Homo sapiens: one gene and its partners. The protein of the gene in region 1 interacts with the protein of each later gene in a biochemical or structural test. Each region holds a gene or a part of one and is shown in the gene's direction. Other genes may lie near its edges. The genes, in order: CDC25C, PIN1, PLK3 and MARK3.

The links.
Region 2: the proteins of CDC25C (region 1) and PIN1 interact in a test that uses a peptide from one of them, tested with the Homo sapiens proteins (2 studies listed by BioGRID, with this or other methods).
Region 3: of the proteins of CDC25C (region 1) and PLK3, one has a biochemical effect on the other in vitro, tested with the Homo sapiens proteins (2 studies listed by BioGRID, with this or other methods).
Region 4: of the proteins of CDC25C (region 1) and MARK3, one has a biochemical effect on the other in vitro, tested with the Homo sapiens proteins (3 studies listed by BioGRID, with this or other methods).

What each region holds. Positions count from the first base shown.
Region 1 is NC_000005.10:138,321,804-138,328,831, reverse strand, and holds part of CDC25C (M-phase inducer phosphatase 3), read left to right. Parts: intron 1-302; coding exon 303-348; intron 349-2,777; coding exon 2,778-2,811; intron 2,812-2,927; coding exon 2,928-3,017; intron 3,018-7,028. UniProt on the Homo sapiens protein: Functions as a dosage-dependent inducer in mitotic control. Tyrosine protein phosphatase required for progression of the cell cycle. When phosphorylated, highly effective in activating G2 cells into prophase.
Region 2 is NC_000019.10:9,845,296-9,850,195, forward strand, and holds the end of PIN1 (peptidyl-prolyl cis-trans isomerase NIMA-interacting 1), read left to right. Parts: intron 1-2,734; coding exon 2,735-2,845; intron 2,846-3,794; coding exon 3,795-3,904; 3' UTR 3,905-4,394; downstream 4,395-4,900. UniProt on the Homo sapiens protein: Peptidyl-prolyl cis/trans isomerase (PPIase) that binds to and isomerizes specific phosphorylated Ser/Thr-Pro (pSer/Thr-Pro) motifs.
Region 3 is NC_000001.11:44,795,876-44,803,381, forward strand, and holds the start of PLK3 (serine/threonine-protein kinase PLK3), read left to right. Parts: upstream 1-4,501; 5' UTR 4,502-4,588; coding exon 4,589-4,798; intron 4,799-4,964; coding exon 4,965-5,072; intron 5,073-5,160; coding exon 5,161-5,277; intron 5,278-5,746; coding exon 5,747-5,876; intron 5,877-5,969; coding exon 5,970-6,057; intron 6,058-6,884; coding exon 6,885-6,980; intron 6,981-7,079; coding exon 7,080-7,278; intron 7,279-7,392; coding exon 7,393-7,506. UniProt on the Homo sapiens protein: Serine/threonine-protein kinase involved in cell cycle regulation, response to stress and Golgi disassembly. Polo-like kinases act by binding and phosphorylating proteins that are already phosphorylated on a specific motif recognized by the POLO box domains.
Region 4 is NC_000014.9:103,381,050-103,388,440, forward strand, and holds the start of MARK3 (MAP/microtubule affinity-regulating kinase 3), read left to right. Parts: upstream 1-4,365; 5' UTR 4,366-4,980; coding exon 4,981-5,031; intron 5,032-7,391. UniProt on the Homo sapiens protein: Serine/threonine-protein kinase. Involved in the specific phosphorylation of microtubule-associated proteins for MAP2 and MAP4. Phosphorylates the microtubule-associated protein MAPT/TAU. Phosphorylates CDC25C on 'Ser-216'.

The sequences.
Region 1 (7,028 bases):
TAATTTCAGATTTTCTGAGTGATAACCTTTCTTTTCTACCCATAAGAAAAAAAAAAACTCCATAGGTAGCATAGTGTAGTGTTTCCCAACACTTGATTTCTTTTAGTGACACATATAAATTCTTACGTTTCTGTGAAATTGTACCTTGTACCATGAAATGGGTACCAATCGAGAGGCTTTGTATTCAAAAGCTCAGTCCTTGAAATTAATACGGCTTACTGGTAATGAAGAAAATCTGAAGGAAAAACAGGATGCATGGACAAGAATAACTCCTTTTACTGATTCTTTATATTTGATTGCAGGTCACCTGGATTCTTCAGGACTTCAGGAAGTGCATTTAGCTGGGATGTAAGTTCTGTTGTTAAATGAACCCCACACAAAAGCCTTTTAGCACTGGTCATAGAGATTTTATCCTGTGCAGACTCTGCAGAGTACAAAACCTTTCATACTGGGTATAAGTGGGCTTTGAGGCCTAGTTCCTTACCTTGAACAGTTTCTAAGTTTTCCACATCTAAATAGTGTTGTGAAAATGAAGGCTATTCATTTTAACCATCATAATCAGAAGTATCTATAAGGAAATGAAGGAAAATGGTATACTACACTTATGTATAGGCTTTTATTTGTATGTGAAAGGTGCTGTATCTTAGTAATTGAAAGTACAGAGTGGCCGGACACGGTGGCTTACATCTGTAATCCCAGCACTTTGGGAGGCCAAGGCAGGCGGATCAGTTGAGGTCAGCAGTTCAAGACCAGCCTGCCCAACATGGTGAAACCCCGTCTCTACTAAAAATACAAAAATTAGCTGGATGTGGTGGCACATGCCTGTAATCGCAGCTACTTCGGAGGTTGAGGTAGGAGAATTACTTGAGCCCAGGAGGCGGAGGTTGCAGTGAGCCAAGACTGCGCCACTGCCCTCCAGCCTGGGCGACAGAGCGAGACTCCGTCTCAGAAAAAAAAAAAAAAAGAAAGTACAGAGTATAAGCTCTGGAATCAGTGTGTGGATTCCTGGCTTACTACTTCATTCACCAGTTGTGACTCTGACAAGTTTTTTTTAACTTCATTGGACCTTAATTTTTTTTATTTGTAACGTGGAGACAATAATAGCATTTCTCATAAAGTAGCTATTGTAAGGAGTAAATAAACTGTGTATCTAGCACATACCAAGCATTTTACTTATGTATTTATTTTTATTTTTGAGATGGAGTCTGGCTCTGTTGCCAAGGATGGAGTGCAGTGGTGCCATCTTGACTTACTGCAACCTCTGCCTCCCTGGGTTCAAGCGATTCTCCTGCCTCAGCCTCCCGAGTAGCTGGGATTACAGGCGTCCACCACCACGCCCGGCTAATTTTTGTATTTTAGTAATACAAAAATGGAGGCTTCACCATGTTGGCCAGGCTGGTCTTGAACTCCTGACCTCAAGTGATCAGCGCCCCACCCCCACCCACCCCTTGGCCTCCCAAAGTCCTGGGATTACAGATGTGAGTCACTGGGCCCAGCTTGAATTGCTTTAAATGCTCTAACCCAGATAGATAATGAAATCCATGGAGGGAGGATAGAAATTAATTTTTTTTTTTTTTTGAGATGGAGTCTCGCTCTGTTGCCAGGATGGAGTGCAGTGGTGCGATTTTGGCTCACTACAACCTCCGCCTCCCGGGTTCAAGTGATTCTCCTGCCTCGGACTCCTGAGAGGCTGGGACTACAGGCACATGCCACGACGCCCAGCTAATTTTTGTATTTTTAGTAGAGACAGGGTTTCACCATGTTGGCCAGGACGGTCTCTATCTCTTGACCTCGTGATCCGCCCGCCTTGGCCTCCCAAAGTGCTGGAATTACAAGCGTGAGCCCCCGCGCCCAGCCTTTTTTTTTTTTTTTTTTTTTTGAGACGGAGTTTTGCTCTTGTTGCCTAGGCTTAAGTGCAATGGCGCGATCTCGGCTCACCACAACCTCTCCCTCCCGGGTTCAAGCGATTCTCCTGCCTCAGGCTCCCAAGTAGCTGGGATTACAGGCATGCGCCACCATGCCTGGCTAATTTTGTATTTTTAGTAGAGACGGGTTTCTCTGTGTTGGTCAGGCTGGTTGCGAACTCCCAACCTCAGGTGATCCGCCTGCCTCGAACTCCCAAAGTGCTGGGATTACAGGCGTGGGCCACAGCGCCCCGCCAGAAATTAAATTTTTTTAAAAAGTTAGCCCCGGCCGGGTGCGGTGGCTCACATCTGTAATCCCAGAAGTTTGGGAGGCTGAGGCGGGCGGATCACGAGGTCAGGAGATCAAGACCGTCCTGGCTAACACGGTGAAACCCCATCTCTACTAAAAATACAAAAAATTAGCTGAATGTGGTTGCAGGCGCCTGTAGTCCCAGCTACTCAGGAGGCTGAGGCAGGAGAATGGCGTGAAACCGGGAGGCAGAGCTTGCTGTGAGCCGAGGTCGTGCCACTCCAGCCTGAGTGACAGAGCCAGATTCCGTCTCAAAAAAAAAAAATTAGCCCCAATACACTGTGCTGGAAAATTAGTAAATTGTAAATTGTATAAAACTCGTTCATCTTTGGAACATGTTATATGGTTATGCAGGCAAAATGAGGGTCTTATCCCCAGGATGTCACTTGAGTCTTGATATTTACCACAGAGAATACCCTATGTATTGTTGTTGGAAGAGACATATCAACTAGGAATAGGGCTCCTAGAATGAAATAGAAAAATGTTGGGATGCACCAATCCACTGAAGAATAATCAAACAGTATTTGGGACTAACCTGACAGGCAGTTTGTTTTAATCTGCAGGAATCATGACCAGCACCTAATGAAATGTAGCCCAGTGAGTAGCCTCTCTTTTTTTGGGTTTTGTTTTGCTTTTCAGGTGGGAGGCAGAGGGTTTCCATTGCACCTGTGGCTTGAGGATGCTGGACGTTCTCAGCAAACTCTCTTTTTTAGGCACAGCTTCTTTGTAGCACTCCGAATGGTTTGGACCGTGGCCATAGAAAGAGAGATGCAATGTGTAGTTCATCTGCAAATAAAGAAAATGTGAGTGTTTAATGGAAACCTAGATATATTGGCAGTTTTATTTTTTGAGTGAAGAAACTTGGTATCATAATGAGACATAGAACTGTTTATACCTCGTATGCTAGACAAGGAAACTGTATTACTATAGGGGAGAAAATTTCTTTGTTTTTGTTTTTTCTTATTAAAGTTTGGCCCTAGGACAGACACCCAGCTCCAAATCTTCCACAGTAGGTCATCATTATTTCTCATGTTCAGTTGATCATTTTGAGGACAAAAATTACCCTTACTGTAGTGTAAGGGATTTAGGAGTTTTTTGTTTGTTTGTTTGTTTGTTTTAACAGGTAGGGATAACTTGCATAACTTGTTCATGGATTTTTTTTTACCACTTTACATGCAAGTGTAGATTAATTTCTTATTTCCCCCTTAGTCTAGCTTTTAAGCCCTTATTCCGAGGAGGCCATGGTACTTTTTATCTAAACCTTAGGCCATCCGTCGTTCCAAGTTAAATCTAGCCTCTCCGGAGCCACCTCATCACTAAGATAGTTCTGTATCTAATCCCTCATCTAAGCCCCTTTTCTAGACATCGTTTTTTCTTCCCTGCCTCCCATCCCTTTCCCCAAATCATTACCATAAAAGATAGCTGCTCTTCTTTTCTTACATTGACTTAAGATAAACTCATGTTTTCGGCTGTTCTTATCAGTTTTTTCTTGATTTAATACTGTCCTTCTAATCTCCATTTATAATCACTTTTTATTCATTTATTTTTGAAACTGAGTCTCGCTCCATCGCCCAGGCTGGAGTGCAGTGGTGCAATCTCAGCTCACTACAACCTCTGCCTCCCGGGTTCAAGTGATTCTTGTTCCTCAGCCTGCCAAATAGCTGAGACTGTAGGCACGTGCCACCACGGCCCAGCTAATTTTTGTGTTTTTAGTAGAGACGGGGTTTTGTCTTATTGGCCAAGCTGGTCTCAAACTCCTGACCTCAAGTGATCCACCTGCCTCGGCCTCTCAAAGGGCTGAGATTACAGGTGTGAGCCACTGCCTGGCCTATAATCACTTTTTTTTCTTTTTTTTTGGTGAGACAGAGTTTTGCTCTTGTTCCCCAGGGTGGAGTGCAGTGGTGCAATCTCGGCTCACTGCAACCTCTACCTCCTGGGTTCAAGCGATTTTCCTGCCTCAGCCTCCCACGTAGCTGGGATTACAGGTGCGTGCCACCACACCCAGCTAATTTTTGTATTTTTAGTAGAGACAGGGTTTCACCATGTTGACCAGGATGGTCTTGATCTCCTGACCTCGTAGTCTGCCCTCCTCTGCCCCCCAAAGTGCTGGGATTACAGCCGTGAGCCACCATGCCCGACAGCATCAATATTTTTAAAGTTTTTTTTTTTCCTCTCCCTAGAAATAAGGGTCTCACTATGTTGCCTAGGCAAATCTTGAACTCCTGGGCTCAAGCCTTAAGGTTTTGATACTTTCTCCGATTCATTTCTAAAAAAGTTACAAGAATTTACATTTTCATTAGCAATCCAAATCTCATAGAATTTACTTATTTATTTATTTATTTATTTTGAGACAGAGTCTCACTCTGTCACCCAGGCTGGAGTGCAGTGGCGCAGTCTCAGCTCACTGCAACCGCTGCCTCCCTGGTTCAAGCAATTCTCCTGTCTCAGCCTCCTGAGTAGCTGGAACTACAGGCGCATGCTGCCACGCCCAGCTAATTTTTTGTATTTTAGTAGAGATGGGGTTTCACCATCTTGCCCAGGCTGGTCTTGAACTTCTGAGCTCAGGCAATCCACTTGCCTCAGCCTCCCAAAATGCTAGGATTACAGGTGTGAGCCACCCTGCCCAGTCTTCTCATGGAATTTGTTTTTTTTTTTTTTTTGAGATGGAATCTTGCTCTGTTGTCCAGGCTGGAGTGCAGTGGGACAATCTCAGCTCACTGCAACCTCTGCCTCCCGGGTTCAAGAGATTCTCTTGCCTCAGCCTCCTGAGCAGCTGGGACTACAGGCGTGTGGCACCACGCCCAGCTAATTTTTGTATTTTTAGTAGAGACGGGGTTTCACCATATTGGCCAGGCTGATTTGAACTCCTGACCTTGTGATCCACCCACCTCGGCCTCCCAAAGTGCTGGGATTACAGGCATGAGCCACCATACCTGGACTTCTCATGGAATTTTTTAAAAAATTACTTTCTGCTGAGCAGTCTAGTTTGAGGGAAAATGCTAATTAGGCCAGATGTTGTGGCTCATCCCTGTAATCCCAGCACTCTGGGAGGCTGAGGTGAGAGGATTGCTTGAGTCCAGGACTTTGAGTTCCCTAGCTGGGGAACACAGCAAGACCACATCTCTACCCCACCCCCCAACCAAAAAAAAGAAATGGCTGGGACTTGGTGGTGCATGCCTGTAGTCTCAGGTACTCTGGAGGCCAAGGCAAGAGGATCGCCTCGGCCCAAGAGCCTGAGGCTCCAGTGAGTTATAATTGGGAGGATTGCTTGAGCACAGGAGTCTGGGGCTGCAGTCAGCTGAGATGGAGACTCAGTCTCAAATAAATAATACACACACACATACATACATGGTAAAATAGTTTATTTTATGTTAAAAATAATTAGCAGGCCAGGCATGGTGGCTCATGCCTGTAATCCCACCGCTTTGGGAGGCTGAGGCAGGTGGATCACCTGAGGCCAGGATTTGAGACCAGCTTGGCCAACATGGCAAAACCCTGTCTCTACTAAAAATACAAAAATTAGCCAGGCGTGGTGGCACCTGGCTGAGAAACAAGAATGGCTTGAACCTGGGAGGCAGAGGTTGCAATGAGCTGAGATTACACCACTGCACTCCAGTGCAGTGAATGGACAGGTGACAAAGTGAGACTGTCTCAAAAAAAAAAGGAAAAAAAAATAAAAATAAAAATAATTAGTAGTGGCTGGGTGCAGTGGCTCACACCTGTAATCCCAGCACTTTGGGAGGCTGAGGCAGGCTGATCACTTGAGGTCAGGAGTTCCAGACTAGCCTGGGCAACATGGTGAAACCCCATCTCTACTGAAAAAAAAATATGAAAATTAGCCAGGGCCGGGCGCGGTGGCTCACGCCTGTAATTCCAGCACTTTGGGAGGCCGAGGTGGGCGGATCACGAGGTCAGGAGATCGAGACCATTCTGGCTAACATGGTGAAACCCCGTCTCTACTAAAAATAGAAAAAATTAGCCGGGCATGGTGGCGGGTGCCTGTAGTCCCAGCTACTCTGGAGGCTGAGGCAGGAGAATGGCGTGAACCCGGGAGGCGGAGCTTGCAGTGAGCCGAGATCGTGCCACTGTACTCCAGTCTGGGCGACAGAGCGAGACTCCATCTCAAAAAAAAAAAAAAAAAAAAAAAAAAATTAGCCGGGCGTGGTGGCAGGCATCTGTAATCCCAGCTACCCAAGACGCTGAGGCAGGAGAATCAGTTGAACCCAGGAGGCAGAGGTTTCAGTAAGCCGAGACTGCACCACTGCACTCCAGCCTGGGCGACAGAGCGAGACTCTGTCTCAAATAATAATAATTATAGGCCGGGTGCTGTGGCTCACGCCTGTAATCCCATCACTTTGGGAGGCCGAGGCAGGCGGATCACAAGGTCAGGAGATCGAGACCATCCTGGCTAACATGGTGAAACCCTGTCTCTACTAAAAGTACAAAAAATTAGCCAGTCGTGGTGGCGGGCGCCTGTAGTCCCAGCTACTCCGGAGGCTGAAGTAGGAGAATGGCGTGAACCCGGGAGGCGGAGCTTGCAGTGAGCCAAGATCGCGCCACTGCACTCCAGCCTGGGCGACAAAGCATGTCTCTGTATCAAAAAATAAAATAAAATAATAATAATAATTAGTAGTGATTTCATGTGATTATTATCCATGCGTAATTTCTCTAGTGTCTTTTGTGCCCTTATAATACTGGGGTCTTAACTTACCCAGGCATTGACTTGCCTTTCATAGACCATGGACTCCAGAGATTTGGATTATTATTTCTAATCTCAACCCTGAGGGAAAGCTATTTTAACATATTCTATCCTA
Region 2 (4,900 bases), on another chromosome or scaffold:
CTTGTTGCCCACGCTGGAGTGCAGTGGCAACGATCTCAGCTCACTGTACCTTCTACCTCCCAGTTTCAAGAGAAAGCGTTTTTTTGTTTGTTTGTTTGTTTGTTTGTTTGTTTGAAATGGAGTTTCGCTCTTGTTGCCCACGCTGGAGTGCAGTGGCAACGATCTCAGCTCACTGTACCTTTCTACCTCCCAGGTTCAAGAGAAAGCGTTTTAAAAAAAAAAATCATTCCAGCTACTTGCGAGGCTGAGGCAAGAGGATTGCTGCAGCCCAGGGGTTTGAGGCCAGCCTGAACAATAAAGTGCGACCCCATCTCTGCAAAAGGAAAACAAAAACAGTCATTGCAGGCTCCCATCATAGCAGAAAATTTTCCAAGAGAGCTGGCAGGTCAGAGGCAGATCTGGGTGATATGAGCTATTGGTGTGCCAAAGTGTGGCTTTTATTTGTTTTTAAGTGGTATGGCTTGCACACTATGTGTGTGAGAGAGGACAACTTGGGCGGGCTGTCCAATTTCAGGGATCCCTGTGGCTGTGTCCCCAGCCCTGGCCGCTGGGGGCTGTGGCAAGGTGATGCTTGTTCAGGGCCTGGGCCTGGCTCCTCAGACGCTCAGTGCCTGCAGGCAGTCCTGCTTCCCCGAAGTAGGTGGGTACCTCTGGGGGCACCGTGCGATCCCCTGGCTGGCTTAGTGGTCCAGACAGAAGGGGGGACAGGGGACTCCAGTGCTCTGTGCCTAAGGCCAAGGAGATACCTAGAAGTTCAGGGAGAGGAGGGGTGGGAGGGGGTCCTAGCAACATCTGGTTTAAGTCGGAGTCACTGGTGGATGTGTCTGGCACAGAGGAGGACCCCGTGGCAGCCCTGGAAGCGGGGCATTCTGATCAAACCAGGGCATCACGGGCAGAAGCCTCTGTAATGTGCCATCCCAACAGAAGCTGGGGCCCTGTATGGCATCGATGTCCCTGTCAGACCAGGACACGTGGGCCGGCAGGGCCAAGGATAGGGAGAGCAGAGCAGTAGAGGCTGCGTCATCCCTGGGATGCAGTCCCCATGGAGGGGAAGAATGATGACAGCAAGGGACGTTGGTCAGGGTCCTGCTCGGTGCCGGGCACTATGCTGCATGTCACAGCCACTGGCACAAGACTGTCAGGCGGAGGGGCACAGGGATGTCAGGGCAGCAGGTCGTGGTGACATCCAGCTCAGATACCAGGACACTGGTGGCTGCCATGACGTGCAGCCAAACAGGGAGCTATGGCTGTGCTCTCACGGTGGTACCATTTCCACTGCAGTCCCAAGCAGGTTAGAGCGTGAGGCCGAGGGGCCCTGGGGACACTTGGATCAGTCCAGTGTGTTCAGCAGGTGCCACGGTTGGGTGTCCAGGCCTCCCAGCACTGGCTAGGTCACCCAGCAGTGTTCCCGTGGGTCTCCAACAGGCTCCAGGCCAGTGTATCAGCTATGTATGTCCTGGGCAAGTTGGCCGGCAGGTGTGTCATGGCATCATTTAGGTCAGAAGGAGCAAGGGTAGAAGTGTCAGGGTGACATTAAGAAACCCCCTACTGAGTGTGTCAGGGTGACCTTCACGTTGGAGAGAAGAACTGGTGTCCCTGGAGAGTGGCTGCCAGGCCTTAGGGTACACGGGGCGGGTGCAGTTCACCCAGAGGGCTGCCCTGGCTTGCTGGGGCTGTCGCACCACTGGCCTAGGGAGGACACTGGAAGGGACGCCCGTTTGTGTCAGAGCAAGAGGATTGGGGTAGGGCAGGCTTTGGCCCATGGGCACCTTCCTGGGGGTGGCCTGGAGTCAGGAAGGCGGTAGCCATTCCTCCTGACCTGGCACGTGCACAAGACTGCATACACACACTTGCTCACACACAGTCACACCACACACACCACGTGCACACACACGCAGCCCTCCCCACTTGGCTTCCGAAACGTGAGTCACTCAGATGCTACTCTGCTGCCGTCTTGCCCCCTCTGCTGGCAGCCCTGTTCCTCCTAACTCCACCAGCCCTGGCCTCCTCCGCCTCCTGGAGAGTCAGAGCCGATGGGCTAGTTTGGGCCACACAGGGTGGGGCCACCCTGAGTTCTGCCAGCATGCAGACTGTAGGTGGGGAGCCGGGAGAAGAGCTATGTTGCCTGCCTCTGGGACCCTGGGGCTACAGCCCACGAGTGTCCCTTGCAGAGCCCACCAGGGTGCCTTGGAGGCCCATCCCAGTGCCAGGCTGTTCTTCCCAGATGGGACAGCTGGGGCCACAGGCTGCCGTGGCAGTGCTGGGCTTTCTCTGGACAGCTCTCCCACCTCTGCCCAGGGGGCCCGGGGGGCCAGCCCCCTGCCTGGGTCAGCCTCTCCCTGCCTGCTGCTCTCCTCTGGCCCATCCAGCTTGTATGTAGATTTTCCCTCACGTGTGTGTGTGTGTGTGCATGTGTGTGTGCTGGTGAGAGTGACAGCGGGAGCAGGGATGTGAGACCTGCAGGGTGGCAGGGCTCATGGATGACTGGCGGGGTGCATTAAGTGCTCATGCTCGTGAAAGGCACCTCTTCTTGGGTGTGGGTGAGGACAGGTGTGACTGCGCATGCAGGTATGTGTGAGGAGAGGGGTTGTGGGGAGCATGTGCGCCTGTGAGGGGAGGCTTTCCAACTGAAGTGCTGCCTCCCCCGCTGGCCAGCTCTGGAGTCCTCCATCCTGTCTGGTCAGGCCCCCCCCAACCCCTGACCTGGCACTCCCATTCCGTTCCATGTCCACAGGCTACATCCAGAAGATCAAGTCGGGAGAGGAGGACTTTGAGTCTCTGGCCTCACAGTTCAGCGACTGCAGCTCAGCCAAGGCCAGGGGAGACCTGGGTGCCTTCAGCAGAGGTGCGCAAGGAATGGGCCTCACCAGGTTGGGGGACCCTTACCACCCTGAGGGGTAGAGGCCAGGAGGGTCTGGGCATTGGGCTCCCAGGTGCCACACCGGCCTTCGGGGTCCAGCAGGTGGCAGCACAGCCCCTTCCTCAGGCTTCAGAGGCTGCTCTGCTGGGCAGGGCCAGGGCCACACAGGGAGGGGGGCTGCAGCACTTTCTTCCTGGCATCATCTCTACCCTGGGGGGCATGGTCTCTTGTGTGTCTGTGCACAGATGTCCTCATCCCAGGCCCACCAAGGTGGGTACATCCTGTCCTCTGCCTCTTCCTTTTTGTGGTTTAAGGTTGAGGGCCCTGAGAGTCCCAGGGCCTGTCCCCCAGAATCCCTCTCAAAGGTGGGGAAACCAGGGGTGAGAGGAGGTGGCCCTGAGTTTAGGCCTGTCTGGCCAGGACAGTGGAAATCAGGGACAGAGGGGACTAGGCCTCCTCCTCTTCCTCCTCTTCAGTCCTCGGGGTCTACAGAAAAACATCAGGGAGAGGCCAGGATGGGTTGCAGGGTGTGGTGTGCAGGTGTCTTAGTGGGGTGGGGCGGCAGCATGGGGCCAGCAGCTGCCCACCTCCTCCGAGGAGGCTGGTGGGACAGATGACATGGCAGGGCTGGGAACCAGGCCCAGGGAGACGAGTTCACTACCGAAGTGGCCCCTAAATGCACGGCGGCGGCCGTAGCCCTGCCTGCTATCCTTCATGCTGTCCTCGGGCTTCCCAGGGCCTCCTTAATGGCCCTGCCACCCCCAGCTGGGCCGCCGCTCAGCACTGGCAATAAACATGGTGACGGATGAGTGTGGACGAGTGTGAGGCTCAGCGCAGGCAGGAGCCCCATCTGTCGCGGCTGCCACCCGCCCTGCCTCATCCTGGCCTCTGCCAGCCCAGCCCTGACACCCCCACCGCCCCTCCTGGCTCCCAGGTCAGATGCAGAAGCCATTTGAAGACGCCTCGTTTGCGCTGCGGACGGGGGAGATGAGCGGGCCCGTGTTCACGGATTCCGGCATCCACATCATCCTCCGCACTGAGTGAGGGTGGGGAGCCCAGGCCTGGCCTCGGGGCAGGGCAGGGCGGCTAGGCCGGCCAGCTCCCCCTTGCCCGCCAGCCAGTGGCCGAACCCCCCACTCCCTGCCACCGTCACACAGTATTTATTGTTCCCACAATGGCTGGGAGGGGGCCCTTCCAGATTGGGGGCCCTGGGGTCCCCACTCCCTGTCCATCCCCAGTTGGGGCTGCGACCGCCAGATTCTCCCTTAAGGAATTGACTTCAGCAGGGGTGGGAGGCTCCCAGACCCAGGGCAGTGTGGTGGGAGGGGTGTTCCAAAGAGAAGGCCTGGTCAGCAGAGCCGCCCCGTGTCCCCCCAGGTGCTGGAGGCAGACTCGAGGGCCGAATTGTTTCTAGTTAGGCCACGCTCCTCTGTTCAGTCGCAAAGGTGAACACTCATGCGGCCCAGCCATGGGCCCTCTGAGCAACTGTGCAGCACCCTTTCACCCCCAATTAAACCCAGAACCACTGCTCTGCTCTCCTGTGTCTCATTTCTCCTCAGGGAAGCATAGTGGGGAAGATGTCGTGGGGAGGGGATCATAGCCCCCCCATCCTAAGGGTCCCAGCTGCAAGTTCTCCCCCGAGGCTTCCCCTTGCCCTGGGCCAGGGGGAGTCACAGCAGCTGGCTCTTGGGGACATGGGCACTGTCCAGCTGCCCAGCACCCTGAGATCTGCTTCCCTGCCATCTCAGGGGCTTCCAGAAGGTTCGTGGGTCCAACCCGGCACCTGGCCCAGCACCCATTGCAGCTGCAGTTACCATGACAACAGGGCCCTCCCGGACTGGAGGGGGCTCCTGCAGGGAGGGGGATGGGAGCAGACATGGCTTTTAGTGCCTGAAGGTGGAGCAGAGGGAATCCTGGGGTGGGTGGCGGGGAGATGGGGTCCCCCGCCAGTGTGGGGGCTGTGGATGTGGCATGCCTGACCCCCATCCCCTGTTCAGTCGGGGGGCTGTGGGTCTGATGGAGAAGTGGTTATTCCTGCAT
Region 3 (7,506 bases), on another chromosome or scaffold:
TAAATATATATAAAAATATATAACAATATATAAATATAAATATATATAAAAATATATAACAATATATAAATATAAATATATATAAATATATAAATATAAATATAAAAAATATATATAAATATATAAATATATATAAATATATAAATGTATAAATATATATAAAAATATATAACAATATATAAATATATAAATATATAACAATATATAAATATATAAAAATATATAACAATATATAAATATAAATATATATAAAAATATATAACAATATATAAATATAAATATATATATAAATATATAAATATAAATATAAAAAATATATATAAATATATAAATATATATATAAATATATATAAATATATAAATGTATAAATATATATAAATATATAAATATATAAAAATATATAAATATATATAAATATATATAAATATATAAATATAAATATATAAATATATATAAATATATAAATATAAATATATAAACATATATAAATATATATAAATAAACATATATAAAGATATATAAAGATATAAAGATATATAAATATATAAATATATAAAGATATATAAATATATAAAGATATATAAATATATAAAGATATATAAATATATAAAGATATATAAATATAATATATAAATATATAAAGATATATAAATATAATATAAAAATATATAAATATATATTAAAAATATATACATATAAATATATGTATATTTTTTTGAGATGGGGTCTCGCTCAGCCACCCACGCTGGAGTGCAGTGGCACGAGCTCGGCTCACTGCAACCACTGTCTCTCGGGTCCAAGCAATTCTGTCTCAGCCTCCCAAGTAGCTGGGATTACAGGCACCTGCCATCATGCCCGGCTAATTTTTGTATTTTAGTAGAGATGGAGTTTCACCATGTTGGCCAGGTTGGTCTCGAATTCCTGACCTCAGGTGATCTGCCGGCCTCGGCCTCCCAGTGCTGGGATTACAGGCATGAGTCACCACGCCCGGCCCTATATATATTTTTGAGACAAGCTCTGTGTCTCCCAGGCTGGAGTGCAGCAGCATGATCATGACTCACTGTAGCCTAGACCTCCAGGGCTCAAGTGATTCTCCCACCTCAGCCTCCCAAGTAGCTGGGATTACAGGCATGCACCACCACACCCAGCTAATTTTTGTTTTGTTTTGTTTTGGAGACAGAATCTCTCTCTGTCACCCAGGCTGGAGTGCAGTGGTGTGATCTCAGCTCAGTGCAACCTCCACCTCCTGGGTTCAAGTGATTCTCATGCCTCAGCCTCCTGAGTAGCTGGGACTACAGGCGTGAGCCACCACGCCCTGATAAATTTTGTATTTTTTTTTTCAGATGGAGTCTCACTCTGTCATACTCAGGCTGGAGTGCAGTGGCGTGATTTTGGTTTATTGCAACCTCTGCTTCCTGGGTTCAAGCGATTCTCCTGCCTCAGCCTCCAGAGTAGCTGGGATTACAGGCGCCTGCCACCATGCCCACCTAGCTAACTTTTTTTTTTTTTTTTTTGAGATAGAGTCTCACTCTGTCACCCAGGCTGGAGTGCAATGGGGCGATATTGGCTCACTACAACCTCCACCTCCCAGGTTCAAGCGATTCTCCTGCCTCAGCCTCCTGAGTAGCTGGGATTACAGGTGGGTGCCACCACGCCAGACTAATATTTGTATTATTAGTAGAGACGGGGTTTCACCACATTGGTCAGGCTGGTTTCGAACTCCTGGCCTCAGGTGATCTGCCTGCCTCGGCCTCCCAAAGTGCTGGGATTACAGGCATGAGCCACTGCGGCTGGCCCAATTTTTGCATTTTTTTGGTAGAGACGGGGGTTTCACTATGCTTCCCAGGCTGGTCTCAAACTCCTGGACTCAAGCGATCTGCCTGTCTCAGCCTCCCAAAGTGCAGGGATTACAGTCATGAGCCACCACTGCACGGCCCCAAAATTTATTTATTTTATTATTATTATTATTTTTTAGATGGAGTCTCCTTCTGTTGCCAGATTGGAATGCAGTGCCACGATCTCAGCTCACTGCAACCTCCCCCTCCTGGGATCAAGTGATTCTTTTTTTTTTAAGACTCTGTCTCAAAAAAAAAGAAAAAAAAAAAAAATATATATATATATATATATATACACGAATTTTGGGCCAGGCACAGTGGCTTATGCCTGTAATCCCAGCACTTTGGGAGGGCCGAGGTGGGTGGATCACAAGGTCAGGAGTTTGAGACCAGCCTGGCCAATATGGTGAAACCCTGTCTCTACTAAAAAATACAAAAATTAGCTGGGCGTGGTGGCACGAGCCTGTAATCCTGGCTACTCTGGAGGCTAAGGCAGGAGAATCGCTTGAACCGGGGAGGCAGAGGTTGCAGTGAGCCAGGATCGCATCACTGCACTCCAGCCTGGGTAACAGAGCAAGACTCTGTCTCAAAAAACAAACAAAACAAAACAAAACAAAATAAATAACGGTGCAAAATTGAATATGCCTTTTTGACTCTCTAAATGCCTCAGATCCATTTACCCTGGGGATTTGTCCTTTCTAGCCCCACCACCATCTCCCCTCTGGAAGACTGCTGACCTATAAGGATAAAGACCAGACTCTTGAGCAGGCACTTAGGGTCTTCCTGCCCATCCCTATCCCCAACTCCCCCTCAGTAATTTTGGCTACTAGTATTTCTCCACATCTGAGGCTATCGTGGGTCTCCCTTCAGTGGTCATGAAGGACAAGGTTGGAGAAGTTTGCCCTCGTGAGTCTGATGAGGGATTGGGTGGGATCCCTCTAATAGCATATGGAGGGGATGAAATGGGCATGAGACCAAAGGCCAGGAGAGCAGCAAGGAGCTGTGGCAATCATCCTGACAAGAGAGACTGTGGCCCAGGCCAGGGTGTGAGGGGAAGATGGAGCCAAGGGGATAGATATCAGAGCTATTTGGGAGGTAAAATTGGCACAAATTGGGTACTCAGCAAATATTTGTTGACTTTCCTGGCTACTCTTTCTAAAGTAGGCTCTTCATTTGCTCTTCTGTTTATTCTTCCTTCATAGCACTTTTCACAGCCTGCAATTACCTTGTTTATCTGCTTGCCTATTGTCTGTTTCCATCAAGCAGAATGTAAACTAAATGAGGGCTGCAAGCTTGATTAGTTTTATTCGAGATAGTGTCCAGCACTTAGCAGATGCTCTCAATAAATCTTTGAGGAATGGCATGGTAATTGATTGGCTGGCACAGAGGGAGGGCAGAGAGGTGAGAGACAAGGCCAGGAGGCCTGTGGTCCTGGGCCTCTGTCTCTGGCCCTGGGAAGGGTGGGCATTGCGCAGGGGTCTAGGGGTCCACGTGGTCCAGAGACTAGCTGCCCAAGTGCCCGTGTCTAGCATTTGAGAAAATGCAATTCCCAGCCAGGCAAGGTGGCTCACGCCTGTAATCCCAGCACTTTGGGACGCCGAAGCGGGTAGATCACCTGAGGTTGGGAGTTCCAGACCAGTCTGACCAACATGGAGAAACCCCGTCTCTACTTAAAAAAAAAAAAATACAAAATTAGCCGGGTGTGATGGCGCATGCCTGTAATCCCAGCTGCTCGGGAGGCTGAGGCAGGAGAATCGCTTGAACCTGGGAGGCAGAGTTTGCGATGAGCCAAGATCGCGCCATTGCACTCCAGCCTAGGCAACAAGAGCGAAACTCTGTCTCAAAAAAAAAAAAAAGAAAGAAAGAAAGAAAAAAGAAAATCCAATTCCCATTCACTTTCTGGCCTCTGGCTGCTGACCCAGGCCCGGGGGTATTTTCAGAGGAAGGGAATTGCGGACCCCGGAGGAACCCGAAATTTGCCCCTCAAGAGTGTAGAAGTGGGTAGCGGAAGATGTGGCCTGGAGCATGGTAAAAGCCTTGAAATTCCAGACTCTGCTTGACTCCTAAACCTGGCAAGGCAGCCCTCGGGCCAGGCAAGCCAGGCGCGAGACTGTGCCTTCCTTCCAGGCCCTAAAGAGGGCAGCACTGGGCCGGGCCCCGGGCGAGGGCGAGGGACACACGCGGTCCGGCACACTGAAAGGGGAGTGTCGGGTAACATGCCCGGGCAAAAGCGAGCGCCGCCCCTGCCTCTCCGCTGCTGGCTGGAACGCTGATCTATCTAGTTGCTGGGGAGACGCCCCCAGATGCCCGGGCCCCACTCGGACTTCAGCACACATCCCGAAGGATGGGGAAAGAAAGAGGCCCCCACGAGCGGGACTCGCAGTGGCCAAGGAGGGGTGAGAGGCGGACAGGGATCAGCTGGCCCCTGCGGCCTGGTTGCACCTGCATGGTGACTAGCTGCCGGGCTGCGCCCCGGGGCGCGGCGAGGAGGCGGGGTCTGGCAGTGCGTTGGGTGGGGGAGGAGCTTCTGGGTGATGTAAGGCCGGGAATGGGAGTGGCCTCTCCTCGACTCGCTGCTAGGAAGGGGGCGGGACTCTCGGTGACCAGACGCCGGGGAGGGGGCAGGCGTTCATTGATAAAACGCTGGGCTCCCCTGGGCGCCAGCGCAGCGTAGCAAATCCAGGCAGCGCCACGCGCGGCCGGGGCCGGGCGGAACCGAGAAGCCGGGACCGCGCTGCGACGCGCCGGCCGCATGGAGCCTGCCGCCGGTTTCCTGTCTCCGCGCCCCTTCCAGCGTGCGGCCGCCGCGCCCGCTCCCCCGGCCGGGCCCGGGCCGCCTCCGAGTGCCTTGCGCGGACCTGAGCTGGAGATGCTGGCCGGGCTACCGACGTCAGACCCCGGGCGCCTCATCACGGACCCGCGCAGCGGCCGCACCTACCTCAAAGGCCGCTTGTTGGGCAAGGTGGGCCGAGGGACGTCCGCGGGGTGGTGATGGTGGAGGTGGGGGTCCCGGCCGGCCTCTTTTCTGGCGCCGAGCAGGGCGTGGGCACTTGACCCCCAACGCGGGGACGCCCGCGGGCCAGACTCGGCCCCCCTGGAACAACCAGCCTGATGCCCCCTCTTCACAGGGGGGCTTCGCCCGCTGCTACGAGGCCACTGACACAGAGACTGGCAGCGCCTACGCTGTCAAAGTCATCCCGCAGAGCCGCGTCGCCAAGCCGCATCAGCGCGAGAAGGTGGGTCCAGGCTCAGCGGGCGAGGGGTGGGGTGGGGACGGTGGCATGGGAACCATGGAAGGATGACGACTCCGCGCCCTCATCGCAGATCCTAAATGAGATTGAGCTGCACCGAGACCTGCAGCACCGCCACATCGTGCGTTTTTCGCACCACTTTGAGGACGCTGACAACATCTACATTTTCTTGGAGCTCTGCAGCCGAAAGGTGAAAGATGGTGATTCCCGCAGGGATGAGAGTGAGGGAGAGAAGACAGTCTTTTTTTTTTTTTTTTTTTTTTTTGAGATGGAGTCTTGCTCTGTTGCCCAGGCTGGAGTGCAGTGGCGCGATCTCGGCTCACTGCAATCTCTGCCTCCCGGGTTCAAGCAATTCTCCTGCCTCAGCCTCCTGAGTAGCTGGGATTACAGGCATGCACCACCACGCCCGGCTAATTTTTGTATTTTTAGTAGAGACAGGGTTTCACCCTGTTGGTCAGGCTGGTCTCAAACTCCTGACCTTGTGATACACCTGCCTTGGCCTCCCAAAGTGCTGGGATTACAGGCGTGAGCCACTACACCCAGCCGAGAAGACAGTCTTAAGACCCAAAGCTGGGGCCCTGTTTCTTCCTCAGGGAGCACAGATGGAGGGGGAGGGGGAGGGAGGGCTCACCAGGGGCTGAGGCAGTGGCTCTCTGCAGTCCCTGGCCCACATCTGGAAGGCCCGGCACACCCTGTTGGAGCCAGAAGTGCGCTACTACCTGCGGCAGATCCTTTCTGGCCTCAAGTACTTGCACCAGCGCGGCATCTTGCACCGGGACCTCAAGTTGGGTGAGACTCCTGAGCCTGGAGGATGGGAGGTTGGGGAGGGAGGGAGGGAGGGAGGAAGGAAAGAATCTGACACACCTCTCTTGCCCCATCTAGGAAATTTTTTCATCACTGAGAACATGGAACTGAAGGTGGGGGATTTTGGGCTGGCAGCCCGGTTGGAGCCTCCGGAGCAGAGGAAGAAGTGAGTTTTGAGGAAAGGGGCCCTGTGTGTGATACAGATGACATGCGTGATAGACAGTGCATATGTATGTGGGAGGCAAGGTGACTGCCTGATGTGTGCATGAGATAAATGGGAAGGGATGATGGGCTGTTCATGCATGTGTGAAGGTGGAGGTGGCAGCCTGTGTTACCGAGACCGGTGGAGAGGGGGAGGATCCTATAGGTGTATGACACAGATAGGGTAGGTGACTCTGAGTCCCTGAGACAGATGGGGGTATACAGATTCTTGGAGGCACATGACTTACCCTTTGTGTGGATGGGGGAAGGTGACAGGCAGCGTGTATGTGTGTGTGAGAGACAGACTGAGAGTGTGGAAATGGTGGGATATGACATTGTGGGTGTAAGAAGACCCTGCTGTGGCCATCATACTTTGTGTGTGTGACACAGATAGCGTATGTGGCAGATGAGTGTTTATGGGGGTTGTGACAGCTGGTGTTGGTGTGTGTGTGGCACAAACCGTGGGAGGTGACAGCCTGATGCCTGTCTGACAGACAGGAGTGCAGGAAGGGGGAAGGGATCAGCTGTGGACTCTCTGTGTTGACCCTAGAGGAGAGGACTGGGCTGGGGGTCAGGCCCTCCCCCTGTCATGAAGAGCAGCTGAGCAGCTGGGCCAGGCGGGTGGGCGGGGACTCAGCTGCCATCCCTGGCATCCATTGTCCCAGGACAAGCAGGAGTTCTCTGGCCTTTGGTGACAGGCAGCTGCTTTGTCTGGACTAACAGTGGGGGAAGGAGTCGGGGGGCTGCTGGGCTGGGTCTCAGCCTTCTCTCCTCCTCCCCACCCTCTTTCAGGACCATCTGTGGCACCCCCAACTATGTGGCTCCAGAAGTGCTGCTGAGACAGGGCCACGGCCCTGAGGCGGATGTATGGTCACTGGGCTGTGTCATGTGAGTTGCAGGGTCCAGGTTCAGCAGCAGACAGGTGGTGGGTGTGTGGGTGGAGCATCTCCTCCACTTTACTCCTGACCCCTTGGCCCTGCCCTATAGGTACACGCTGCTCTGCGGGAGCCCTCCCTTTGAGACGGCTGACCTGAAGGAGACGTACCGCTGCATCAAGCAGGTTCACTACACGCTGCCTGCCAGCCTCTCACTGCCTGCCCGGCAGCTCCTGGCCGCCATCCTTCGGGCCTCACCCCGAGACCGCCCCTCTATTGACCAGATCCTGCGCCATGACTTCTTTACCAAGGTCTGTGGCTCCCCAGACCTCTAAGTCCATCTGTGTATTCCCAGGGATTGAAAGGGGGCAGGTGACAGGACCCCTGGAGCCTCTCTTCTCTGTTCACATGGTTCCCCTCCCTAGGGCTACACCCCCGATCGACTCCCTATCAGCAGCTGCGTGACAGTCCCAGACCTGACACCCCCCAACCCAGCTAGGAGTCTGTTTGCCAAAGTTACCAAGAGCCTCTTTGGCAGA
Region 4 (7,391 bases), on another chromosome or scaffold:
ATCATACAGAATTTGTCCTTTTGTGTTTGACTTATTTCACTCATCATAATGTCCTCAAGTTTCATCTGTGTTGTAGCTAATGTCAGAATTTCCCCTCTTTTTAAGGTTGAATAATATTCCATTGTATGGACATACCACATTTTGTTTAGCCATTCATCTATGGATGGACACTTGGTTTGCTTTCACATTTTAGCTATTGTGAATAATGCTGCCATGAACATGACTGTGCAGATATTTCCTTGAGACTGTGTTTTCAATTCTTTTGGGTATCTATCTGGATGTGGGATTATTAGATCCTATGGTAATTCTATTTCTAATTTTTTTCAAGAAGCATAATACTGCTTTCCATAGAAGCTGCACCATTTTACATCCCCACCAACAGTGCACAGTTTCCAATTTCTCCACGTTCTTGCCAAAATTTGTTATTTTCTGCTTTTTTGGTAGCAGCTATCCTAATGGCTTTGAGACTCAGTTTCTCGTCTGTCCCACAGGGACATAGTAGGGCTAGATTATCTCTAGCTTCTGATGTCTCATGGTGCCTTCCTTCTTGCCATGAAAGTAAGTATTGCTTATGCACATATACATCTTAGTAAATTTAGTTATATCTTTTCAGCTTGGGGCCCCAAGGTAGAAACTATTTTAATATGAAGACAGGAAACAAGAAATATGAAAAGGGATTGAAGAAGGCATTCCAAGGACAACTTCCAAACCCTCCTCTCTATTCCTTCCAGACCATAGATGCACATAATTCTGGGCCACAGAGAGTCCTTTGGACAGAACAATACTTTACTGTTTCTTCTCTTCCTCTCCTTTTCTTTTTTGCTTGTAATTCACACACCCAGGTGGCTAGGCGCAGTGGATCACACCTGTAATCCCAGCACCTTGGGAGGCAGAGATGGGAGGGTTGCTTGAGGCCGGAAGTTCAGTCTGGGCAAGACTTGGTCTCTAAAAATAAATTACCTAGGTATGGTGGTGCATACCTGTAGTCCTAGCTATTCAGGAGGCTGAGGCAAAGAATCACTTGAGCCCCGGAGTTCAAGGCTGCAGTGAGCTATGATCACACCACAGTGCCCCAGCCTGGACAAGAGAGCAAGACCCTGTCTGGCTCAAGCAACAACAAAGGAAGGAAGGAAGAAGGAAGGAAGGAAGGAAGGAAGGAAGGAAGGAAGGATGGATGGAAGGGAGGGAGGGAGGGAGGGAGGAAGGAAGGGGAAAAAGAGAGAGGAAGGGAGGGAGGGAGGGAGGAAAGAGAGAAAAAGGCAGGCAGGCAGGGCAAGAAAGAGACAAAGAGAAAGAAAGAAAGAGAGAAAGAAAGAAGAAAAAAGAAACACACACACCCATCTCCCACTCTTTATAGTGTCATGATGTCATTTAACATAAGTGCAAGGAAAAGTTCAAGGCGTTTAATTCTAGCTTTTACAAAACCCAGAAGCATCTTGAGTTAAGTACTATTATCTTCATTTCCTAACTTTTGGCATTCGCTGACTCATTATTTCATATGTGGCTTGGGTGAGAAAAGCATCTGGGTGGCAACCTCCTCCCCCAGCTACTTCTCTGGCCAATGGGGACTGTTCTGAACTTCCCATACACTTTCTCGCAGCTTCTGCCTGAGGCTGAAACCCTTTCTGGGGTGTTTTCCCAACTGTCATCAGGATGGGATGCAGAACCAGGTGCCATGCTCTGTCCAAACCCTGCCTGGCTCCGGCCTTCTGCAGTCTCACTTCTCACCGCTCACTCTCCTGATATTTACCCAGACCCACCGTGTGGCTTCTCATTGCGGTGCTCATCAGGCCATCCTTCTGCTTGAACTGTCCTTTCTACCCATCCTCCCACAGCTAACTCTGCTCATGCTTTTAGACTCAGCATAAACATCCTCTCCCCCAGGAAGCCTTCCCTGATCCAAACCCCCGAGTTGAGCTAAATGTCCCTGCTTGGGTCTCCCACAACACTTATGCTCACCCCGTCTTATCATAACCAACATTGCAGTTGAAGTGTGTGAAGCACACATTTAACTAATGGAATTCCACTAACTCCTCTTGGCCAGAAGGAGAAAGAGAATAACTTTATTTATTTATTTACTTATTTATTTATTTCTGAGGCATGTTCTTGCTCTGTCTCCCAGGCAGGAGTGCAGTGGGCATCATCCTTCTGCCTTTTTTTTTTTTTTAAGTTTTTGTAGAGACAAGGTCTCACTCTGTTGCCCAGGCTGGTCTCCAACTCCTGGGCTCAAGTGACCCTCCCACCTCAGGCCCCCAAGTAGCTGGGATTACAGATGTGCATGCCGTCTCCCTATTCACATTTTATTTTACTTTATTTTGTTTTTTGAGACGCAGTCTTGCTCTGTTGCTCAGGCTGGAGTGCAGTGGGCTGATCTTCGCTCACTTCAACTCTGCCTCCCAGGTTCAAGAGATTCTCTCACCTCAGCCTCCTTAGTAGCTGGGACTACAGGCACACACCACCGTGCTTGGTTAATTTTTTGTATTTTAGCAGAGATGGGGTTTCACCATGTTGGCCAGGCTGGTCTGAAACTCCTGAGCTCAGGCAATCCGCCCACCTCGGCCTCCCAAAGTGTTAGGATTACAGGCGTGAACCACCGCGCCCGGCCCCTATTCACATTTTAAATAGAACCACTCTTGGCCCCCTGACCACTCCTCTCTGAGGGTTAGATGGGAGCCCTGAGTGTTACCTTAGTCCTCAGGTGTTTTAACATTGGGAGCCTCTGGCCTCTCTGGGAGTGAATCTGGCGTTTAAAGATACATATATTTGGCCGAGCGCAGTGGCTCACGCCTGTAATCCCAGCACTTTGGGAGGCCGAGACGGGCAGATCACAAGGTCAGGAGATCGAGACCATCCTGGCTAAGACGGTGAAACCGCATCTCTACTAAAAATACAAAAAAAATTAGCCAGGCATGGTGGTGGGCACCTGCAGTCCCAGCTACTCGGGAGGCTGAGGCAGGAGAATGGCGTGAACCCGGGAGGTGGAGCTTGCAGTGAGTGGAGATCGCGCCACTGCACTCCAGCCTGGGCGACAGAGCGAAACTCCGTCCCAAAACAACAACAACAACAACAACAACAACAAACATATATTTCGTGGAGCAAGAAATGTCTCAAACATAGCAAGAGAGTTGGGATGCCAACGGACCAAAGGGAAAGCAAGCATGACATAGCCCCCCACTACAAGGGCTTACCTATTATCCAAGCTTTGGGAGCTAGGTTAGAATCCCAGCTCTGTCGCTAACCAACCTGTGTACTTTAGCCAAGTCACTGTACCTGTCTAGACTTCGGATCGCATGTGTGTCTGCCCATCTCATAGGGTTACCCTGAGGCTAAATGAGGTAACAAATGTCATGAACCCACAAGGTAGACTCGACTCTCGGTAACAGTTCGTGTCACCCCCATCTCACACTACTCTCCCTCTTCGGACCCTGCACCCATGGATTCCATCCACCGCTGGCCAGGAGCTGAGTAGAGGCACCGAGCACGTGAAGAGGTGAATGGGCAAGGAAGGCTTCCAGGTCAGGTAGCATTTCCAGTGTTCCAGCCTGCAGGCATCTACCGAGCCTGGCCCGAGGCTGGCACCCAGAGATGCTTCCAGTCTTCCAGCAGCAACGCACTGACTGTAAGAAAAGCCTGCTTATAAACCCCCTACAGGCATTTGGAAGCTGGTCCCTGGGGTCCTCTACAGATTCATTTCGCCCCCAAACCCATCCCCTTTGTGCCACCCTCGTTATTGCACTCTTCCATCCGGATGGCATTTAGCTGGGTCCGGGTCTGTCACCCGTCTGACCACCAGCTCCTTGAGGGCAAGAGGCGCCTGCTGCCCTCAGGGTCCGCGCCCAGCCCGCAGCTGCTCAGATCCGGAGACGGGAAGGTTTGTTGGCGAGAACCTGACTCCCGGGTCACAGTTAAGGATGCAAGAGCCCGGCGCCTTCCCGTAGCCCCGGCCCTGTCATTAATTAATGCTGGGGCTCCATTCGGTGCAGCGCAGTCCCAGGGATGCAACCGCAACTTTTGCGCACAATAGGCTCTCGATCTGTAATCCAGCCAACCCAGGCCTGTAGTGTGTAAATGCCAACTCAGCGGGAGGGCTCTGGCTGTCGCCCAGAGCCGTTTCTCGGCTCTTTCGCGGTTGCCGGCGCGCTCGGGACAGGAGGAACCCGCAGCCCGCGGGAGTCAGCGGAGACCCGACCAGCACTATCCAGCCCTCTGCACCGCCCCCGCGGCGAGGTCTGGACCAAGTCGCCCCTAGCAACAACAGCCGGGCCGGCTTTCTCAGGCCATGCTGATTGGCGGGACTCCGGGTGGCGGCCTGTCGTCACTTCCGGCAGCCGGAGGCAGCAGAGGAAGCCGAGGGGCGGCCATCTTGGCTCCGTGAGGCTCTGAGGTGCCGGGGTGCGGCGGCGGCAGCGGCGGCCAGCAGGGCGGAGGCTGAGGCAGCAAGCTCGCTAGAGAGGGAGAAGCAGTCGGGCGCAGGCGCCTCCTCCGCAGCCCGCTCCATGGTCGGCGCCCACAGCCCGCGGCGGCCTGTCTTGCGCTCCACTTCCTTCACATCCTCCTCCGCCTCCTCGTTTTCAGGCGCCGCCGGCGGCGCTGTGTGGAGGCCCGCGAGCTGAAATTCGCGGTGCGACGGGAGGGAGTGGAGAAGGAGGTGAGGGGGCCCAGGATCGCGGGGCGCCCTGAGGCAAGGGGACGCCGGCGGGCCGAAGCGCAGCCCGCCGCCCGCAGGCTCGGCTCCGCCACTGCCGCCCTCCCGGTCTCCTCGCCTCGGCCGCCGAGGCAGGGAGAGAATGAGCCCCGGGACCCGCCGGGGGACGGCCCGGGCCAGGCCCGGGATCTAGACGGCCGTAGGGGGAAGGGAGCCGCCCTCCCCACGGCGCCTTTTCGGAACTGCCGTGGACTCGAGGACGCTGGTCGCCGGCCTCCTAGGGCTGTGCTGTTTTGTTTTGACCCTCGCATTGTGCAGAATTAAAGTGCAGTAAAATGTCCACTAGGACCCCATTGCCAACGGTGAATGAACGAGACACTGAAAACGTAAGTAACCTGGGCGTTGTAGTTGGCGGACCTTCGGGGTGGCATTCGTGCTCCTCGGGCAGTGCCTTGCAGTCGGGTGTTCCCCCCAGCCGAACGCTCTGGAAATAGAGGGCAGGCCGTAGTCACCCAGGAGGCAGCCAGGTCGGACCGTTTCCTCCAGAAGTCTGCCGTGTCCCGCTGTTCGCGGGCGGGTCTGCGAAGTACATCGATTATGCCGGCAGTCTAGTCGGTTAATAAAGCCCAGGAGTTGCAGCGTTACGGATCGGTGCTTTGAGAGGCCAGGTTGCCGCGCAATGGATTGTGCAAACGTGTGTGTCAGATCACTGCAGTGGTCAGTGCTTATTTTAGCCGAACTCTGCTTTTAACTTGGTCAGGCAGTTCTTGAGAGACTGTCACATTAATAACATATGTTACCGGTGCTGATTAAGAGTAATCGATTGGGTCAAGTGGGCGGTCTCGTTCTTTAAGATGGTCTGGAACTAAATTTAATCACAGTCACTAAGTGTCCACTGAGGGATCTTTGCGGTCCCCTTAGGAATTCCAAAACACTAGCGCGCAGCCTTTATTAAGGCAGTTTCCTTTCCATACAAATCTTTTTTGAAGGAGTTGGTTAAACATTTTGAAAAGCAGATGTATAGTGAAGCTCTGCTCTGCCACTCACTGCCTAGCTGAGGGACACCCGCTGGGGGCTTCGCTGTCCTCCTTCCTAAAAAGAGATTGGCTTAGATGAGCTCTTAGGTCCCTTTCAGCGCTCACAGGCTATGGTTTTATAAAAGGAACCTTTGATTTTGTTCATGTGAAACTACAAAATGCCAGGAACAGCATTGCTAGAGAATGAGAACTTGTAGTAGAAATTCCATTGAAGAAACGTTTGACTCTGTTCGTTTTCTAACTCTGTTCTCCTCTAACACTGGGTTCAAAAGTGTTTCAATCTAGTTGTTGACTATATTCTGTAAAACATCTAGTAAATAATTTGTAAAGAAACTTCACTGGCCTTTCATTAAAAGTGTTATGAGGTAATTGCTGGCACGAAATGTCTTCTCTTAGGGAATGCTTCCTTGCTTTGAGTGTTTTCATGCTTTCAGTAATGTCCTGAGATGTTGTGGCCTAGTGGAGTTAATGCTTTCATTTTGATCTTCAAAAATGCCGCTTGTTTGCTGGATAGCTGTTTGATAATTTAATCCGTAAACGTAAACCATAGCCTAAAGCATCCCTGTAGCATATTAGTATACAATATTTAATGCTCTGTGGCCCTGAGTAAGTAGAACAGTGATGTACCTTTCTCCACCTGAGATAGATTAGAAAATTATATAAAGAGTGAGTAATAGAAACTCTTAGACTAGGTGAGTCAGGGAACTAATTTCCTTATAGTCCTTTTAAAGAAACCTTATTTATTTGTTTATTTATTTATTTATTTACTTATTTATTTTTTGAGACAGACCGAGACTGTCTCCCAGGCTGGAGTGCAGTGGTGCGATCTTGGCTCACTGCAGCCTCCACCTCCCAGGCTGAAGTGATTATCATGCCTCAGCCTCCCGAGTAGCTGGGATTACTGGCGTGCACCACCACGCCCGGCTAATTTTTGTATTTTTAGTAGAGACAGGGTTTCACCATGTTGGCCAGGCTGGTCTAGAACTCCTGGCCTCATGTGATCCACCCGCCTCGGCTCCCCAAAGTGCTGAGATTACAGGCATGAGCCAGTGTGCCCAACTGATTAGTTTTGATCATTGATCTTCACTCAGAGAAGCAAAACCTTACATTGAACCAGAGTAGGAGCTCCATGCTTTCTAAACTGAAGCCAAAAACAGTCATAGCAGATTTGTGATAATGAAGGATTTCAAATGGGTCTTTTTTCTTTCTTTCTTTTTTGAGATGGAGTCTGGCTCTGTCTCCCAGGCTGGAGTGCCGTGGCATGATCTCGGCTCACTGCAACCTCCGCCTCCCGGGTTCAAGTGATTCTCCTGCCTCAGCCTCCTGAGTAGCCAGGATTACAGGCATGTGCCACCACTCCCGGCTAATTTTGTATTTTTAGTAGAGACGGGGTTTCTCCATGTTGGTCGTGCTGGTCTCAAACTCCCGACTTCAGGTGATCCTCCCGCGTCAGCCTCCCAAAGTGCTGGGATTACAGGCGTGAGCCACCACGCCCAGCCATGTAGTGTATTTAAAATGAATTTTTGACTTTTTTTAAAAATCAAGTTTATCACACATCGTTGCATTAATTTACCATGCCCTGTTACATTTTTAACTCTTGCATTGGCATGTTCTGGAAGGAGCTGTGTAGCTTTCACAGTGTGGAGCCCTTGTGTCAGTGTTATAACTCAGGTATAGTCCATATTAATTACCTACATTACTGCACTGCT